3 linked regions of the Homo sapiens genome follow. The protein of the gene in region 3 purifies or fractionates together with the protein of the main gene of each other region. This does not show direct contact. Each region holds a gene or a part of one and is shown on either strand. Other genes may lie near its edges.

The links.
Region 1: the proteins of ZC3H14 (region 3) and LUC7L2 purify together in Homo sapiens (affinity purification with mass spectrometry; 3 studies listed by BioGRID and IntAct, with this or other methods). This does not show direct contact.
Region 2: the proteins of ZC3H14 (region 3) and MKRN2 purify together in Homo sapiens (affinity purification with mass spectrometry; 2 studies listed by BioGRID and IntAct, with this or other methods). This does not show direct contact.

Annotation. Positions count from the first base shown.
Region 1 is NC_000007.14:139,418,862-139,423,961, forward strand, and holds the end of LUC7L2 (putative RNA-binding protein Luc7-like 2), read left to right. Parts: intron 1-3,301; coding exon 3,302-3,479; 3' UTR 3,480-4,593; downstream 4,594-5,100. Other genes in the region: FMC1-LUC7L2 readthrough protein, read left to right, coding at 3,302-3,479. UniProt on the Homo sapiens protein: May bind to RNA via its Arg/Ser-rich domain.
Region 2 is NC_000003.12:12,567,055-12,574,093, reverse strand, and holds part of MKRN2 (E3 ubiquitin-protein ligase makorin-2), read right to left. Parts: intron 5,220-7,039; coding exon 5,091-5,219; intron 4,024-5,090; coding exon 3,842-4,023; intron 2,026-3,841; coding exon 1,721-2,025; intron 1-1,720. UniProt on the Homo sapiens protein: E3 ubiquitin ligase catalyzing the covalent attachment of ubiquitin moieties onto substrate proteins.
Region 3 is NC_000014.9:88,601,020-88,608,058, reverse strand, and holds part of ZC3H14 (zinc finger CCCH domain-containing protein 14), read right to left. Parts: intron 6,136-7,039; coding exon 5,976-6,135; intron 5,232-5,975; coding exon 4,999-5,231; intron 817-4,998; coding exon 696-816; intron 1-695. UniProt on the Homo sapiens protein: RNA-binding protein involved in the biogenesis of circular RNAs (circRNAs), which are produced by back-splicing circularization of pre-mRNAs.

The DNA.
Region 1 (5,100 bases), on a different chromosome or scaffold from region 3:
AATCCCAGCACTTTGGGAGACCGAGATGGGCGTATCACTTGAGATCAGGAGTTCAAGACCAGCCTGGCCAACCAACCCCATCTCTACTAAAATACAAACATTAGCCGGGCATGGTGGCACATGCCTGTAATCCCAGCTACTCAGGAGGCTGAGGAAGGAGAATTGCTTGAACACAAAGGTGGAGGTTGCAGTGAGCCAAGATCGCACCACTGCACTCCAGCCTGGGTGACAGAGCGAGACTCCAGCTCTCAAAACAAAAAAAAACAAACAAAAAAAAAAACAAAAAGTCTCCTATGTGAGTTAGAACAAAGGATTGACATCTTTGACAATAATTAGACTGGCATAAGACTACCACATGTTATAAAGTGCTAAACTGCATATCATAGAATAAATGATCCGAGAGTTTAGATGAGGCAAATAACAGAGTAATCAAAAATGGCTTCAGGTAGTCGGTAAAATTTGAACAGGTAGAATCAGCTAGGAAAAAGATATTCCATATAGAGTGAATATCCTAGGCAAATGCAGAGAATGAGGAGGGAGTTTGTAAAGGACAGAGTGATTTGTAGGCCTCTTATCTCACACTCTTGAAACTGATTTTGGGGGTCTACCCTCAGTGCAGTGTTCAGAAATAAGCATTTTTTAAAAGTTACCTGTCTTATCTGCACAATGAATTTTCAGAATTATCCTGCTAGGTGATGGAAGGTTTAGACATTTTCCTGTGTCAAATCTGCCCAACTGTCATTGTTGTTGCTGAACTCCTAAATGTCTTTATTGGTGATGGGTATGGGAAGGATGGGCGTGAAGTCCCCTAATCTGAGATTGTGTTATTTTAGTCCCTGATGCTTCCTGCGTTGATGAAGTTGTATAGGAATTTTTCCACCATACATGATACATGATCATATCTAAGATGTCAGCATGTTCATAAAGAGGATTATTTTTGTAAAACTATTAAAAGTTTTGCTTTTCTCGAGCACTTTCTCATCTTTGAATTCAAATTATTCTCTTTTAAAGCATCATTCTTTGTTTTATACTAAAAATTACCAGATAATTGCTGTTAAAACCTACTTGGTATTTCATACAACATCAAGTTATTGCTACATATTTGGGTTTAATTTTTCAAGGTAAAAGTTCTTATTGAAAGCCTTTTATGTTTTGCTGTTCTCCTTTCCCTACTGTGAAATACTTGTCTCTGATACAAGTAGATTCTTTGTGACCTCTTCCTGGCAATAGTGCCCTGCGTAAATGAGGACCATTTGCATCTATCTATCTTTTTGCTCTGTTCAAACATGTTTAGTGCAGACTCCAAAGTCAGATTACTTGGGTTCATTGGTTTAGGCTAAGTAATTTATTTTTTTTTTTGAGACGAGAGTCTCGTTCTGTCACCCAGGCTGGAGGGCAGTGGCGCGATCTCGGCTCGTTGCAACCTCTGCCTTGCGGGTTCAAGCGATTCTTTTGCCTCGGCCTCCCAAGTAGCTGGGATTACAGGCCCAGGCCACCACACCTGGCTATTTTTGTATTTTTAGTAGGGACAGGGTTACGCCATGTTGGCCGGGCTGGTCTCAAACTCCCGACCTCAGGTGATCCACCTGCCTTGGCCTCCCAAAATGCTGGGATTACAGGCATGAGCCACCACGTCCCACCTTGGCTAAGTAATTTATAACTATCTCACCTGTCTTTCCCCATCTACTAAGTGGAGAAAGTAAGAATACCTGCTTTGTTAAGATTATTGGTAGTTTGAGTAAAATAGTATATGGAAACCACTATGTGTGGGACATAGTAGTTGATACTCATAGTTTTTTAGTTATTACTGATCACTGGGACTGTTTGGCATCTAGTGTCTTTTTAGGTATCATTTTTACCATCTCTTTTCATATTTTATTCCAACAAAGGCTATGGATAGGACTAGTGTAGACGTGGAATCACTAGACTTGGCACTGTGATTTTTTGTTGTTGTTGAGATGGAGTCTTGCTCTGTCACCCAGGCTGGAGTGCAGTAATGCGATCTGGGCTCACTGCAGCCTCCGCCTCCCAGGTTCAAGTGATTCTCCTGCCTCAGCCTCCCGAGTAGCTGGGACTACAGGCACACGCCACCACTCTCAGCTAATTTTTTGTATTTTAAGTAGAGACGGGGGTTTCACTATGTTGGCTAGGCTGGTCTTGAACTCCTGACCTCAAGTGATCTGCCTGCCTTGGCCTCCCAAAGTGCTGGGATTACAGGCGTGAGTCACCGTGCCCAGTCTTTTTATATCATTTTAAGTTTATTAAAACATTAAGTAGAATGTTCAAAGTGGACATTATTTTAGAACCATTTTTTGTTTAACCCTCCTTAACTATATTTCTAAAACTGAACAGTCATATTTTTTATTTTCCTGAAAGTATTACTTATTCAGGTTCTTGGTAGTGCCTCAGATCCTAATTTTGAATATGGGTTGAGTGAGATAATTATGTAAAAGTGCTGTGTCACCTGTAAAGAACCAAATAAATGTAATTTGTTGAATTTTAGATGTTGGAAGTATGGAAGATTCCATGTTTATTCTGATTCCATAATATGTTTGGTTTTCCGATTGATTTATTATTTACCTTTCTTATAATGAAGTTGGGTATGGGAATGGAGAAGGTAGTAAACAGTTATGGCTAATCAAGATTTATTAGTGTGAGCATCTTTGTCTTTTTTTATTTCCCCTTGTTGGTTGAATAAGCTAACTCAGTATGAGTAGATTTTTAGAAGTGGTTATTTAAATTCATATTAATAATTGAGTAGTTCTCTTATCTAAGTCAGGTGTTGGCAAACTGTTGCCGATAGGCCAAATCTGGCCGGTAGCCTGTACAACCAGCAAGCTATGGATGGTTTTTACATTCTAAAAAGAAAAGAACTGCCACAAAGATTGCATGGACCTGCAGTACCCCAGATAGTCACCATCTGGCCCCTATTCTAAGCCATTTAAAATTTAGATAATACATTTCTTTCACTTTTTAAAGCTGTTATCTATGTATTATTTTTTATATTAAAATACCTTTTATGAATTGGAGAAACTCTGTGTTGTCTCTGAGATGAGAGTAGCCTGTAAGAAATTATTTTAGCCTTCTGACCCTCTGCTATTTGTTTTTCACCCATCTTCTTGTTTTAATGCCCTTATCAACTATGGTAGTGCTCTGTAATTTGTCAGAAAACTGACTCCTCTGTCATGGGTATATTCGTCTATATATCTTCAGCTATCAAGAGCTTAATATTTATCCTATTCTTTAATTTGGGTTTTTGGGTTTCCCAACATATTTTGCTCCTCAAATTAATATTTTTCAGATCCTCAAAAGAAAGATTCAGAGACCAAGACTTAGCATCATGTGACAGAGACAGGAGTTCAAGAGACAGATCACCTCGTGACAGAGATCGGAAAGATAAGAAGCGGTCCTATGAGAGTGCTAATGGCAGATCAGAAGACAGGAGGAGCTCTGAAGAGCGCGAAGCAGGGGAGATCTAACTAGCTGTGTACATTTCTTCAGTCCTTAAGCTTCCTACGGAGTTACGTACTATTGTTTAGTTCACAGCTGTTCAGGGTGACAGTGAGCAGATCCAGACACCAGATCCAGCTAGGCTAGATGTACAGTATCTAACTTGATCTGAACTGAACCTGTTTTCCTTGATGATGCCTAAAACTACATCCATAGTTTCTGGTGAACCTGTAATACAGTTCTGAAAGTACAGTTTTATATAATAAGATGCTGATCTCTTTATTCTTTCAAGTAAGAGTGCTAGTGAACAAATTGTGTTACTTGCCTTGGGATTTTTTGAACGTTTGTAAAATGCTGTCTTCCTAGTCCAAACAGCTGCAGCTTTGGGCATTTTTCTTTTTAATTATTCTTCCTCTGACTTTGTATCCCTTAATACCTACACTCTCCAATTGTAAGAGAAAGGGGGCAGGGAAGCAATATAGCTTCCATTCTAAGGCTGTATTCCCGTTATGAATTACTAGCTGATTACAGTTCAGAGCATTGATCCTGGAATGTGTGCTGGAGAAATTTAAAATACTGGGGTTTTTTGTTTAATGGTGCCTATTTAGAGTTGGAAGTTGAACAGCTGTTGCATTACATACTTTTGCTTTTTTATTGAAATTTTGAAATCAAACGTCTTGATTTTTCTGTTCTGTTGAATTGCTATGTTCAGGATGTTCTAGGGGGTGGGGGCAGGGACTCTTTTCGTAATAAGCACTTGTTTTATTTTGTGTGTGTGGAGTATAAAGGCTACACCCTTATTGTAAAAAAATAATAATAATAAAATGAAAGAAACAATCACCACCACCATTATTAAACTGTAACTTGTCTAGTAAATTGTCACTAGAACTATTTGCTGTGGGCATTTCCTCTATTCTGTTACGTCATTAACAGTGCCTTACTGTGCAAGGCACCAAAGGACATAAATACGTACTTGCAAAGATTCCAGATGAGCTGTTCATGTGGGCCCCTTGCTGACTATATTCCAGCCACTTCAGGGTTGTTTGTAATGACCGTTATAGAGAAGGGCTCGACCTGCAGAAGAAACTGGGGTGTTTTTATTCTCATTCAACAAACCCAAATAAAAACAGTATATGTAACCAACATAATGAGACTTAAGTTTCTGCCTTGAAGAGTTGTATATCCGTTAGTAACTTAAACTGTAATTGGCAGGTATCACTTGTGATTCTGGAAATTCTGAGGAACACAGATTCCTTAAGTAATGAAATTAGTATCTGTGGGTATCATTAACTAAGGTCACCTTTCAAGAACTGTTAATGTCCTTTGTCCCCAAGTTTGACAGATTTGATGTCAGAGGCATGTGGGCCTCTGTGAAGGTGCTGAGAGAATGGGAAACTAAGGCCATTCTAAGTGATACCAGATTACGTTAAAAACCCTCATCAAGTTCCCAATTTACCAAGCTATGCCTCATTAACTGAGGGTTTTCTGCTGTATTTGGTTCCACACATGCAATTTATATGGCATTTAATCTGAGAGACCCATCTGCCTCAGTGGCCCATTTCCCTTTTATTTTTGGTTGCTAAGAAATGTTTTGTATCTCCTTTGTTCCGGGTAGTCTGTGCTGTTCTAAATCCTTACAAGCACTTCAGA
Region 2 (7,039 bases), on a different chromosome or scaffold from region 3:
TACTAATTTACCTCTTGATTATCTAGGAATACGCTGTCCATTTAAACATGCCTTAGGCCAGGTGCAGTGGCTCACACCTGTAATCCCATTACTCTGGGAGGCCATGGTAAGAGGACTGCTTGATCTCAGGAGTTCAAGACCAGCCTAAGCAACATAGCAAGACCTCACCTCTGAAAAATAAAATAATTTTTTTTTTTTTTTGAGACAGAGTCTCTCTCTGTCGTCCAGGCTGGAGTGCGGTGGTGCAATCTCAGCTCGCTGCAAGCTCCACCTCCTGGGTTCAGACTATTCTCCTGCCTCAGCCTCCCAAGTAGCTGGGACTACAGGCGCCCGCCACCACACCCAGTTAACTTTTTGTATTTTTAGTAGAGACGGGGTTTCACCATGTTAGCCAGGATGGTCTCAATCTCCTGACCTTGTGATCCGCCTGCCTCGTCCTCCCAAAGTGCTGGGATTACAGGCGTGAGCCACTGTGCCCAGCCAAAATAAAATAAAATTTTAAAAGTTAGCCAAGCCACCACACCTGGCATTTTTAAATTTTTTTATTATTATTTTTCTTGAGACAGGGTCTCACTCTTATTGCCCAGGCTGTAGTGCAGTGGCACAATCTTGGCTCACTGCAACCTCTGCTTCCCAGGCTCGGGTGATCCTCCCACCTCAGTCCTGCCGAGTAGCTGGGACTACAGGTGTGCACCACCACACCTGGCTAATGTTTGTATTTTTTTTTTTTTGTAGAGACGGGGATCTTACCATGTTGCCCAGGCTGGTCTCAAACTCCTGGGGTCAAGCAATCTGCCTGCCTTGGCCTGCCAAAGTGCTGGGATTACAGGTGTGAGTCACCATGCCTGGCCCTCCCCCGCCTCTTATCCAGCTTCGTACCCTCTGCATCATGCATAGGGCCTAGCATAAGGCAAAGCCTCCCAAAACACTGCAGACATTAATGACTTTAAAAGGCCCTTCCAACAAGTGGCTCCTCAGATTCTATGATTTGGGCTCAAATCTTCCAAAACTTCACCTAGCTGGATCCCAACCATGAGGAAGTGTGAACCCAGGGAGGGAGGATGCTGTATCTGCATGTGATAGAGACATACACACAGACGACATACCATGGTCCTGAGCTAGATCTGTTCTTTGAACTTAGCATGATTTTATATTTCAGATACGACTTCTTTTTCTCTTTATTCTGAGTAATTAAAAATTGGCAAAATAGGCCGGGCATGGTGGCTCATGCCTGTAATCCCAGCACTTTGGGAGGCCAAGGCAGGCGGACAACTTGAGGTCAGGAGTTCGAGACCAGCCTGGCCAACGTGGTGAAACCCCATCTTTCCTAAAAATACAAAAAGTAGCCGGGTGTGGTGGTGGGCGCCTGTAATCCCAGCTACTCGGTGGGGCTGAGGCAGGAGGATCACCTGAGCCAGGGAAGCAGAGGTTGCAGTGAGCCGAGATTGCACCACTGTACTCCAGCCTGGGTGAGAGGGAGACTCCATTAAAAAAAAAAAATGGCAAAATGACTGCAGGAAAAAGAACCTGAAAACAGGATGTAAATATACCAGATACATAATATGGGTATTACTGGCAGGGGGATGCCTGTGGAAATACCAACAATTCTGTCACTTAGTACATTTCAGATTTCTTGAGTGTATATGGATGGCCTTCCGTGTCCTGTTCAGTACATTTCAGATTTCTTAACATGAGTTCATGCAAAGGTTTGTGACTTTACCTTTTCATGAGCCTTCCTCTGCTCTGGGTCGAATGGGTGCAAGACTTGCAGCCTACAGATTTCACACACCTCCCCGTGCAGGTAGACACAGGCATCCCCAAACCGGCACTCCCCAGCAGCTGCGTAGGGGCACAGCTGCTGCTCGTTGCTGTAGGAGCTGCTGGCCTCCACGTCATCAAGGCCACTCCTGATGGCATCCAGGTAGGAATGCGGCTTCATCTCGGGGCTGGGCTGGGGGTCGCTGCAGCTGCCTGGATTACTCACCATGCTCGGCTGGGTCTTCCTTTCAGCCATGCCAGAGAGATCTGAAAACAACACACAGCACACATGCACATGAAAATGGCCCCATTTTTCTGGTATGCCGTTAGCCAAAGCCTAACATATTAAGCTACTCTGACCTAAGAATTCCACTCTTGAGAACATATGGCAAAAAAAACACACCGAAGGGGAAAAATAAAAGGAATAGTATAAAATGTTCATAGTGACATTACTTATAATTACTTAAAAAAACAAAAAACAAAAAACAAAAATGGCAAGACAGGGAAATAGCAAAACAATAGGATATACTTATACAAAAGAACACTAAAGCCGTTTAAAATGGCAAATATGGAAATGTTAACACATGGACCAGTTAACACTAAAACAAACAAAAAAACAGTGAGAGCACTAGAACACAGTGTTTCCTTCATACCAGCAAAGGTAAAATCATTTTAAGTGAACTAGAATAGATGTCTAGAGCAAATCTGTGGGTCCTGAGGCCAGTGTAAACTGCCCCATGGTCACCCCTTCTCACGCCAGGAGCTGCTGCCTTCCCACTGCACACCTCCGAGCTTGTTTAGAGGTCACGTATTCTCACAGGATTACTCATTTGCTGAGGACAGAATCTGCCTACCTCATGGTAGCCAATTCCAAGAACTAGAAATCTCTTCACCTGGTGAGGACCAGCCAATAAAAACAACTTTTATGGCCAGGTGCAGTGGCTCTTGCCTGTAATCCCAGCACTTTGGGAGGCCGAGGCGGGCGGATCATGAGACCAAGAGTTTGAGACCAGCCTGGCCAACATAGTGAAACACTGTCTCTACTAAAAATACAAAAATTAGCTGGGCATGGTGGTGGGCACCTGTATTCCCAGCTACTCAGAAGGCTGAGGCAAGAGAATCCCTTGAACCCGGGAGGTGGAGATCATGCCACTGCACTGCAGCCTAGGCGACAGAGCGAGTCTCCATCTCCAAAAAAAAAACAAAAACAAAACAAACAAAAAACACAACAAAAAAACTTTTACAATTTGTAGCTTTCTTCCTCATCAAACCCTGTTTTAAGGCACAGACCATGCCCCAAACCCTAGTGTGCTATTCTTTTCCCAAAGGTGCAATCTAAACTGTCAAACACTGTCAGCATAAAAACTAAGACCATTCACTGGCCTAAAAGTCAAACAGTGAAACATGCTCTTTAGCAAAATATTTAGTTTTCTTTTTTTTTTTTTTTTTTTTGAGAGGGAGTCTCACTCTTGTCATCCAGGCTGGAGTGCAGTGGCGTGATCTCAGCTCACTACAATCTTTGCCTCCCGGGTTCAAGAAATTCTCCTGCCTCAGCCTCCCAAGTAGCTGGGATTACAGACACCTGCCACTACACCCGGCTAATTTTTGTATTTTTAGTAGAGACAGGGTTTCTACTAAACCATGTTGGCCAGGCTGGTCTCGAACTCCTGACCTCAGGTGATCCACCCGCCTCAGCCTCCCAAAGTGTTGGGGTTATAGGTGTGAGCCACTTTACCCAGACAAAATATTTACGTTTGAAATGAAGAGCTTGATGCTTCTCACCAGCTGGACAACCACCATATGAAGATGGAAGTTACATGTTGACAAAAAGATTGTGTTTTTATGTTTTACCAGGCCAGTCTTGGAGCTCAACCCAGCCTTGGGCACGAGGGCGAATGTATCATTTGAATGATCTGCAGCCACATGGAGCCTCTTCAGAACAGTTCTGAAGTCTCTCCGCGCAGACAATCTGGAGGTGTATTAGGTTAGGAGTCCTCTTGACAAGAGGAGGCTAGAAAGGAGCACCAAGCATTAACAAGAGTGCTATGCAAAAAGACGCAACAAAAGGCTTCCGCTTACTCACTTCGGTCTCTAAGAACCAATGTTCTCTTTTCACGCTTTCCGGGTTCATGTGAGTTAGTTTTCACAATGGATGCAGTGACCTCGGAAGGAGGGTGAGGACTGTGGAAAGCTGGGGAGGGCACACTGTGGGCCATGGTGCCCACAGCACCTCCAGCTGCAGCAGAGGGCCTCGTGTGGTCATATCTAAACAAAACACACAGCAGATGCATTACAGACATGCCACCCACACACATCTCCCACACTCCCCAGATGCCAATGGCCCTCCTTCTGCTGCACTTGTTGAGGTGAAGAAGGCGGCCATCTTTTCCAATATTTAAACTCTAACAGGATTATCGATTATTAACAGATGCTTGGCAATTCATTGTGAGGGGGACATTTGCTATCTATCACCTATGCTTAAGTGTCTCTGTGGGACTTGAGTGGGACAGACACACAGCACCAGACCACACAGAGAACCTGAAAGTTCCAAACAGATGTTGAGCTAAAATCTCCTGATGCCTGACTGACCCAGTATTCTTTTGAGCAGGAGTCCCCAAAATGCTGACAAGGGCCAATGATCTCTCCCTGACTGTCTCTCTTGGCACTCATTGACAGGGGAAGACCAACGTGGGCCTACTTCCATCATCTCCCACTGCACTGCAGAGAAAAAGGAGGGAAGGAAGCTTTGCAGTCTAGAAAGAAAAGATCGGCTCTTTGCTACAAAAGCATGAACAAGTTTCCGGAATTGTGTACAATTTTATAACTATATATTCATAAGAATAAGGCTGAAAAGTAGTTTTAAAAAATGAAAATTAGGCCAGGCACGGTGGCTCACGCCTGTAATTCCAGCACTTTGGGAAGCTGAGGCGGGAGGATCACGAGGTCAGGAGTTAGAGACCAGCCTGACCAACATGGTGAAACCCCATCTCTACTAAAAATACAAAAAAAAAAAAAATCAGCCAGGCGTAGTGGCAGATGCCTGTAATCTCAGCTACTTGGGAGGCTGAGGCAGGAGAACCCTGGAGGCGGAGGTTGCAGAGAACTGAGATCGCACCACTGCCCTCCAGCCTGGGCAACAGTGAGAGACTCTATCTCAAAAAAAAAAAGAAAAGAAAATTAGTTTTAGGGTACTGAAACTGAGGTTTTAAACTTATTTGCCATACTTTTTGTGATGTTGCCATATTACTTTTACATTAAAATTTCCCCCTTATCAAGACCCATTCTCCAAATGAAATCAGTGTCACAGCTGGAATCTGTTGCAGAGTCCTTGCCTGCACCGAGTTCCATAGGCACAGTAGCCCTTCTGGTAGTACTTGCAGATGGTGGACGGTTTGCTGTTTGCCAAGTCATGTGAGAATAGGCACTGACTTCCTTCCCGACACACACCATGCATAAAATACCTGCAGAGACAAGCACAGGCATACAACTTTTAGAAGCACATTTTGCTTTATAAAATCAGCTTATTCTTGAACTTAGCATACAAACATTTACCAGGCATATATTATGTATAAAGGCTCTATTAGGCACTGGAGAGAGATCTATATATTTCCTTGATTCTACAACAGTGATTTCAGAGGCACTACAACTGATTCAATGACAGCTTTTCTGAAAGAAAAACAAATGATCCCATATATTTCTATGTGAAGATATATCTTCCTGATTTGAGATATGTTCAATGTGAGCCACATAATTGAGAAAACACTCTGTGAAAAACTGTTCTCTCTGTTCTCAAGGAGCTTAAAGGGCATGACTAACGAAACCAGAAGATCTGGGCTCAAGACCCAGCTCTGCCACTTAAGAACATGTCACAAAACCAACTTCCCTGGGCCTTGCTACCTTTCCCTATAAAATGAAGATTATACTACCCACTTAACTGGTCGTGGTGAGGATCAAATACCATAGTGTGGTATCAAAAGATATACACAGATGCTCCTTGACTAATGATGGAGTTACATCCCAATAAAGCCACTGTTTTTTGTTTTTTGTTTTGAGATGGAGTCTCTCTGTCACCCAGGCTGAAGTGCAATGGCACAGTCTCAGCTCACTGCAACCTCTGCCTTCCGGGTTCAAGCGATTCTCCTAGCTCAGCCTGGGCTACCTTACTTATGCTTAGAACACTTACATCAGCCTACAGTTGGGCCAAATCATCTAACACAAAATCTATTTTACAATAAAGTGTAGAATAATCTCATGCAATTTATTGAACACCGTACTGAAAGTGAGAAACAGAAAGGTTGTATGGGTACTTGTAGTTTTTAATGAAAGCTGTTTCTCATACATTGTTTCAGATGTTTCAGAATATCAGATGTATCACATGTTCTGTATCAGAATATTCCACTGAGATATCAGATCCTGGCCTTGAAGAATAAGTGGTACAGGAATACCTGGGAGGCTAACTCTGTCCAGACAGGGTAGAGAGACCTGAGTGAATACTCAAACAGTAGAGACCCTAGATGAACATGTCTTGATATTAAAGATAAACTAGGCTGGGTGTGGTGGCTCACACCTGTAATCCTAGTACTTTGGGAGGCCAAGGCGGGCGCATCACCTGAGGTCGGGGGTTCCAGACCAGTCTGACCAACATGGAGAAACCCCGTCTCTACTAAAAAAAATACAAAATTAGTCAGGAGTGGAGGTGCATGCCTGTAATCCCAGCTACTTGGGAGGCTGAGGCAGGAGAATCGCTTGAACTCAGGAGGTGGAGGTTGCGGTGAGCCGAGATTGCGCCATTGCACTCCAGCCTGGGTGACAAGAGCAAAAACTCTGTCTCAAAAAAAAAAAAAAAAAAAAAAAGATAAACTAGCCAGGGCAACAAAGGGAGACCCTAAAATTTAAAAATTAGCCTAGCATGGTGGTATGCACCTGTGGTTCAGCTACTCAGGAGAGTGAGACAGGAGGATTGCTTAAACCCAGGAGTTCAAGGCTGCAGTAGCCATGATTGTGCCACTGCACTCTAGCCTGGGTGACAGCAAGATCCTGTCTCACAAAAGAAAAAAAAAAAGTAAACTAGTGTTAGAGTAGAAGTATTTTAGACACACCCTAATAAGGCTTAAAAAAAAAAAACACAAGCTGATAGCAAGTATATAACTTACTGTCAGCCAAAACAAACTTTAAAGGAAGACAATACAATCCAAATGCTCAGAAACTCACAATGCTTGGCATCCAATCATAAATTACTAGATATGCCAAAAAGCAGAAAATAATGTGACCTATAACCAGG
Region 3 (7,039 bases):
GTGAGATGGGGGATGGTACTTGCAAGGTGAGATGGGGGATGGTACTCACTTGCAGGGTGAGATGGGGGATGGTACTTGCAGGGTGAGATGGGGGATGGTACTCAATTGCAGGGTGAGATGGGGGATGGTACTTGCAGGGTGAGGTGGGGGATGATACTTGCAGGGTGAGATGGGGATGGTACTTGCAGGGTGAGATAGGGGATGGTACTTGCAGGCTGAGGTGGGGGATGGTACTTGCAGGCTGAGGTGGGGGATGGTACTTGCAGGGTGAAGTGGGTGATGGTACTTGCAGGGTAAGATGGGGGATGGTACTCGCACTTACAGGGCTAGATGGGGGATGATACTTGCAGGGTGAGATGAGGGGGTGGTACTTGCAGGGTGAGATGAGATGGTACTTGCAGGGTGAAATGCAGGGATGGTACTCACTTGCAGGGTGAGATGGGATGGTAGTTACAGGGTGAGATGGGGAGATGGTACTTGCAGGGTGAGATGGGGGATGGTACTTGCAGGGTGAAATGGGATGGTACTTGCAGGGTGAGATGGGATGGTACTCACTTGAGGGTTGAGATGTGGGGGATGGTACTTGCTGGGTGAGATGGGATGGTACTTGCCAGGTGAGATGGGGGATGGTACTTGCAGGGTGAGATGGGGGGATGGTACTCACTTGCAGGGTGAGATGGGGGGATGGTACTCACTTGCAGGGTGAGATGGGGTGATGGTAGGCACACTCATCCCCATTTTTACAAGCAGGCCAGTACTTGCAGCGCTCCAAAAGTTTTTCTGGTTTCTGTGCCACACTCAGTTCACTCATCTCAGCTACAAAGGGAAAGGAAATAAAAGTATTTCATTCATTATGATCAATTCAGTACACAGCACCTTTAACATATTTCCCTCAAACCTGTCTTAGAATCTTCTGTTAAATGTACAGTCATATAAAATAAGTGAGCTCAAATTATGGGATTAACACTGGCCATAGAATCCTATAAAAGGTTGCCAGGAAGAAGACAACAGTTCTCACTGTGAAAAGGAAAGAGGACAGTGACTCTGCAACTACGGCCAAATTTTTCACCAAAAATTCTAATTCTCAATACTAATTCATAGCTGAATTAAAAATAGAGAAGGACGTCAAGTGGGGAACTAATAAAATTAAATAAAAACTGAAAACAGGTAAGGTGATAAGGAGATGTGAATCCTCACACGCCAGCAAGATGATGAGTGGCCCAAATACAAAAGGATTCCCACCTGCTGAGCTGTAAGTCCAGGTGCGAAACTCAGCAATGTCTTTTACTTTTTTTTTTTTTTTTTTTTTTTACGACAGGGTCCTGCTCTGTCACCCAGGATGGAGTACAGTGGTGTGCCAGTGGTGTAATCTCGGCTCACTGCAACCTCTGCCTCCCAGGCTCAAGTGATACTCCCACCTCAGCCCCTACCAAGTAGCACGTGCCACCACGCCTGGCTACAGGGTTTCCCCACGTTGCCCAGGCTGGTCTTGAACTCCAGGACTTAAGCGATCCACCCACCTCGGCCTCCCAAAGTGCTGGGATTATAGGCATGAGCCACCGCGCTCAGCCAGCAATGTCTAAAAAGGGGAAAACATTTTTACCTACAATGGGGTCACAAATGCCATCACTTACAGAGACTGGGCAGTTCCCCTAACAGCAAGACTGACTGGGCTGAAGATGATAAATGCAATAAGGGACAGACGGGGAGCAGCAGCCTGGAAAGCAAGTGCACACCCATCCACTCCACTCCCTGTGCCACATCCAATCACAGCTTCGATTACTATGACAGGGCAAAGTGGGACCCCTGTTGCCAGATTTTTATCCTGTTTCAGTAAGCCAAAAATCTGCCTTCATCGAAATTGTAATGCTGGCAATTTATTAAATAACACTGAATAAGTAAAATTACAGCTACAGGCAATAATCAGCTGCTAATTTCTGGACTGAGACACCTTAAACTCCCCACAAAATAGCATCATGGGTATTATGTATTATGGTTCACATTCATGTTCATGAAAGCAAGTATCACTTCAACTGTATTCCTCTAGTCCTCTTGCCAGAGGTCAGTTAAAATCTGACTCTGCCACTTAGTTGCTCAGCCAGACACTCTGTGCAAATGTTAGCTAACTTTTTGGAATTCTGTTTCCTCATCTATACAAAGAGAAAATAATGTCTTCCTTAGAGTCTGATGATTAAACGGAAAAAATGCAAAACAGGCAACCAGTCGTAATAGCAGCAGCAGCTAGTTCTATGAGTACTTACTGTTCCAGTGACCCACATTCTGTCCTCACTACAGGAGAACAAGGCACACAAATGTAGTCATGCAGCCCAGATAGGAGCAGCATCAAAGAGCAATTATGACTATGCCTGATACAAACAGTTTTCTATGCTACTTTAAAAATAGTAAAAGTCCTATTTAAGCTTTAAATAGGATGTGGTGGCTCATGCCTGTAACCCCAGCACTTTGGGAGGCCGAGGCGGGCAGATCACTTGAGCTCAGGAGTTTCAGACCAGCCTGGGCAACATGGTGAAACCCCATCTCTACAAAAAATACAAAAAATTAGCCAGGCATGGTGGTGTGCACCTGTAGTAACCAACTACTCAGGAGGCTGAGGTGGGAGAATCACTTGAGCCTGGGAGGTGGAGGCTGCAGTGAGCCATGACTGTGCCAATGCACTCCAGCCTGGGCAACAGGAGGGATACCCTTTCTAAAAACAAAACAGTATAAGTCATTTTAGTTCTAAGATACAAGAATAATCGGTTCCAAAGAAAATGTGAGATGACTGGAAGTTTCTCTAATTTTTACAGGTTTTTTGTGTCATCCCCGCAAAGTAAATGTGTCTTACCCTTTTCCTATAATAAATTACACACAGCAGACTATAATATATACACAAGAACCCAGTACAAATAAAAGATTAAGAGAATACCCAAGAGAAGCCTAGCTGGAAAGCAAAGTAGCTAGATACTCAGGAACAATATAATACTTTACAAAGAAATGTGATTATTACAATAATACCTTACAAAGAAACTTTATCTTTCTTTTAAAAACATTAAGTCATACGAAGGTCATGCCCCTAGTCTTCACTGGCTGACACCGACTTTGTAAACTATTAAAACTTTCTGTTCAAATTTTAAGAGGCAAATTCACCTTTTATTGAAAGCTATAGGCCAGGCACGGTGGCTCACACCTGTAATCCCAGAACTTTGGGAGGCCGAGGTTGGTGGATCACTTGAGGTCAGGAGTTGGAGATTAGCCTGACCAACATGGTAAAACCCCGTCTCTACTTAAACTACAAAATTAGCCAGGTGTGATGGTGCATGCCTGTAATCCCAGCTACTTGGGAGACTGAGGCAGAAGAATGGCTTTCAACCTGGAAGGCAGAAGTTGCAGTGAGCTGAGATGGCTCCATTGCACTCCAGCCTGGGGGACAGAGAGACTCTATCTCAAAAAAAAAAAAAACAAAGAAAGCAAGCTATAAAATCTGTGCTGCCATATGACAGTGAGTGAAAAGACAGCAGGTTAAAACAGATGTTGTTGTTGGTAGCATCCTTGAAACAACCCAACATAAAACCAACCAGAAGCAATTGCAGTTTCAAACTCCCTGCTCACAGGGGAAGTGGTGCAGAGACTAGAGACTCCTGAGAACTGTTCTGCAGGAGTCTCTCCAGCCACACCCCTATGCTAATCTTACAAAGCTTCATCCTTGAGCAGCAGGGAAACACTGAGTCCCCAGTCAAAGCAATGGGAAAGGAGGCTCACCACTCATCATGGCTGTCAGCACAATGGCCACAGCACTGGCAAGAATTTTTACTAACATATTATTTATGGTGTCACTGCTGCTACATGTATACCCCATAAAGCCTCATATGGACACCTACATTTAAATGAAACCAGATCCTAATAGACCAAAAAATTAAGGTACCAAATTGAAAATCAAGAGTAGTGAAAACACTGGAGTCTTCTCTTTAGACAAAACATACAGAGTCAATAAATCGGGACTGCCTACTGCAGCTTTTACTATTTTTTAAGTTTTTCTTCCTGTTGATAGGGTCAGATTTTCAACTCCCTCCACTAATCAAAACCACGACACTACGTCATTGATTCACAGTAGGAAACGCAACCAATTAAAATAAAGCTAAGTGTTATTGCTCCACTAACATATGATTTCCCTCTGAAGTCTATTCTATTTTTAATGATCGAGAAAGGTATTCAATACATTTTCATATCTCTTCCAAGAAGAGGATTACTCAAGGAAATGTTTCAAAATCCATTACTGTTTTTCCTTTGAATCTGTACGCTTTTAAGATTGAGTAATTATCCCTCCTGCCAATGAAGAGGTGCTTCTAAATATTTTAGAAGATATAAGGAACATAATTACCATTCTCTATCATGAATGGAAATGATCAGTGGCGTTGCAGCTACCACTGATACCCAGTGAAAGAAACGGTGATAAGAAACTGTCACCTGCCAAAAACTATGGTGCTATCTGAAATGAGTTCATCTGAGTTCTGCTAAATATTACTCTTCAACATTAATTTAAACAGTTCCAAGATCTTGATAGATTAGGTGAGAAACTCCTTTCAAAGAAATTTCACTGAGGTAGAAATAGCATCAAATCTAAATTTTTCTCTCAAGTTAATTGCAAGAGACTATTGCTGATAAAAGGGCAAAGTGGCAGTACAGTTTCTGAAGAAAATACAAAGGTAAAGAAGGCAACAAGAATGGTGGTTCATCCTTTAGCCAGCATAAGCGGAAGAGGTCTCTCAGGTTCCATGGCTGAACTCCGTTTTCAAACTGGAGTAACAGCCCACCTATGAAAAAGACACAGGAAAAAGAGTCTGAAATGTACTTGGTGGGTTTGTCTGAAAGAAGAAAAAAGGCCATTACTGAATATAAATAAAAGCAAGGCCTTTAACCAATATTCATTCAAGGTAGAGAAACAAGTCAAAGATTCCCTTCACAATGACAGCACCCTGAAAATCTGAGCTCTCAACACACCGTTAGAAAAGCTACCATTTGGGTCCTCAAGCTGCCTGCTCAGCAAGTGCAACTGCTGTGGGTGGAGGAGACCTCTGAGTCCCTTGTTTGAGGCTGCAGTTTGGTTTACGGGTTTCATTCCTTCAAAGCACATGTCCTCCTCTTGATCTGACATGTATCCTGGGGGGCTGGGGACACCATCCAGCGTCACTATAAACTTGGGACTTGCAGGTTTATCTGGTTGTACAAGATCTCTGCCAGACAGATAAAAAATACCATAGAATTAGGGAAACAAACACAAAACGCTGAGCCCCCTAAAGTGCTCTTCAGCAGAACTATCACTCCCTTGGCTTTGCGTTTGGTTCAATAAAAAAAGACTAGGTAGGGCTACCAGGTGCAGCACTGGTGGGTTCTCTGCTAACACACGATGGCCATGAACAGTCACAGTGGCATCACCAGTGACCCTCCAGCCTGTACTTACTAAGGACAATCTCCCCTCAAGCCTGACCCCATCACCCATTCGATCTTCATAGGGTCAACATGGAAACAAACCAAAAAATTAGCATCAATGCTCAGAACACAAGGGCCAGCAGCATTTATGCTAATTATCTGTATGTTTCTTCTTTTATAGAAACAGTCAATTTTCTAAGGGAAAAATCACCCAAACCTGATCTGCCAACTCTCTTTAGAGCTGACCTGATTATGGTCAGCTGGCTTTTAAACTTGCATTTCCTGAATTTGCATAAAGAAAAGAATCTTTAATAGAGTTAAATCATACACTGAGTTGTAATTTGTAGGTTAATGGATTTCTGAACAAGAAAGATGAACTGGAATTCTTGAAAACTGAATTTGGCTAACTATTCATGGGCTAGCTACTGAATCAATGAAAGCACTCTACGCTAGCGGTTAGGGCGGGGAGGAGGGAAGCTGCAAACGAATGGTTAACCTTTACTATCTAATCACACAAATTAACTACACAAGAAAAAGAAACCATCTACCGTGTCTGCATAAGGTGTCCTGAAAGTACCCGAAGGGAATCTGCAGTCTTCATCCCCGACTCTTGGTTTGGTGCCACTACTACTTCCTCAGACAGCTTTGGCTTCTTCAGAATAAATGATCTTGTGTCTGCATGGACCATGGATTCCATGTCATAGTAATCTGAGCCAAAAAAATTGGCCACAAATGTTTACTTTTGAATATACCTTACATTCCCAACATTATATATGTGAGAAGAATGTCAATCTTTTATATATTCAAATTATTTCAAAGGAAAATCACAACTGGTTCCACTCAGGAAAACAGGGCTATAATTCTATTCCAAACATGTTTTCAAAGAACTCAAGGAGTCCTTCTCGCGTAGGGCACGGCACAAGTGATTCTGATTAACACTCCCTAACCACAGCAGAGAAAGGTTCTCAGGTGAGGCATCTCAACAGATATTAACAATATACCCTTAAAGTACAAAAATCTTTTCTAAAAACCTGGAGAATTTGAGTCCTAATGCTCCCTATAATTAGAATACACAGACTGCTGAACCACTTTTCCAAAATCTGGTTTGTTCACTTCGCACAGTACCACTTAGAATCATGTCCTGATAAAAAGAATTCAAGTGGTATAATTTCCAGTTGGTTATAAACCGAGGACTACTTTAAAAGGTAACTGAAAGGTGAATGGACACTTAAACATATGTATCAAGAAAAACACTGGCCTTTAATGCAAATAACCATAAGCTCACATCATCTACTATTTTATAAAATATGCCAAGACCTACAACCCAGAATGGCTGACCTATCAATACGCCATCAACGGACTGAAGTTAATACACTTCTTTTAAAGCTTAGAGACCAAAATTTACAGGGTATTCATTTATGTTCATTCACTGAGTATTTACTGAACAACTAAGAGAACTGAGCTAGATACACAAAGAAAAAAAGAAAAACAGACACATATACAATTTCAGAATAGCATGACCCAAAAGGGATGTGAACAAGGTGCTGAGAATACAGAACAGCCCACTCCAGCCAAGAACCAACGAAAAGCTTAGCAAGGAGGAACATCTGAA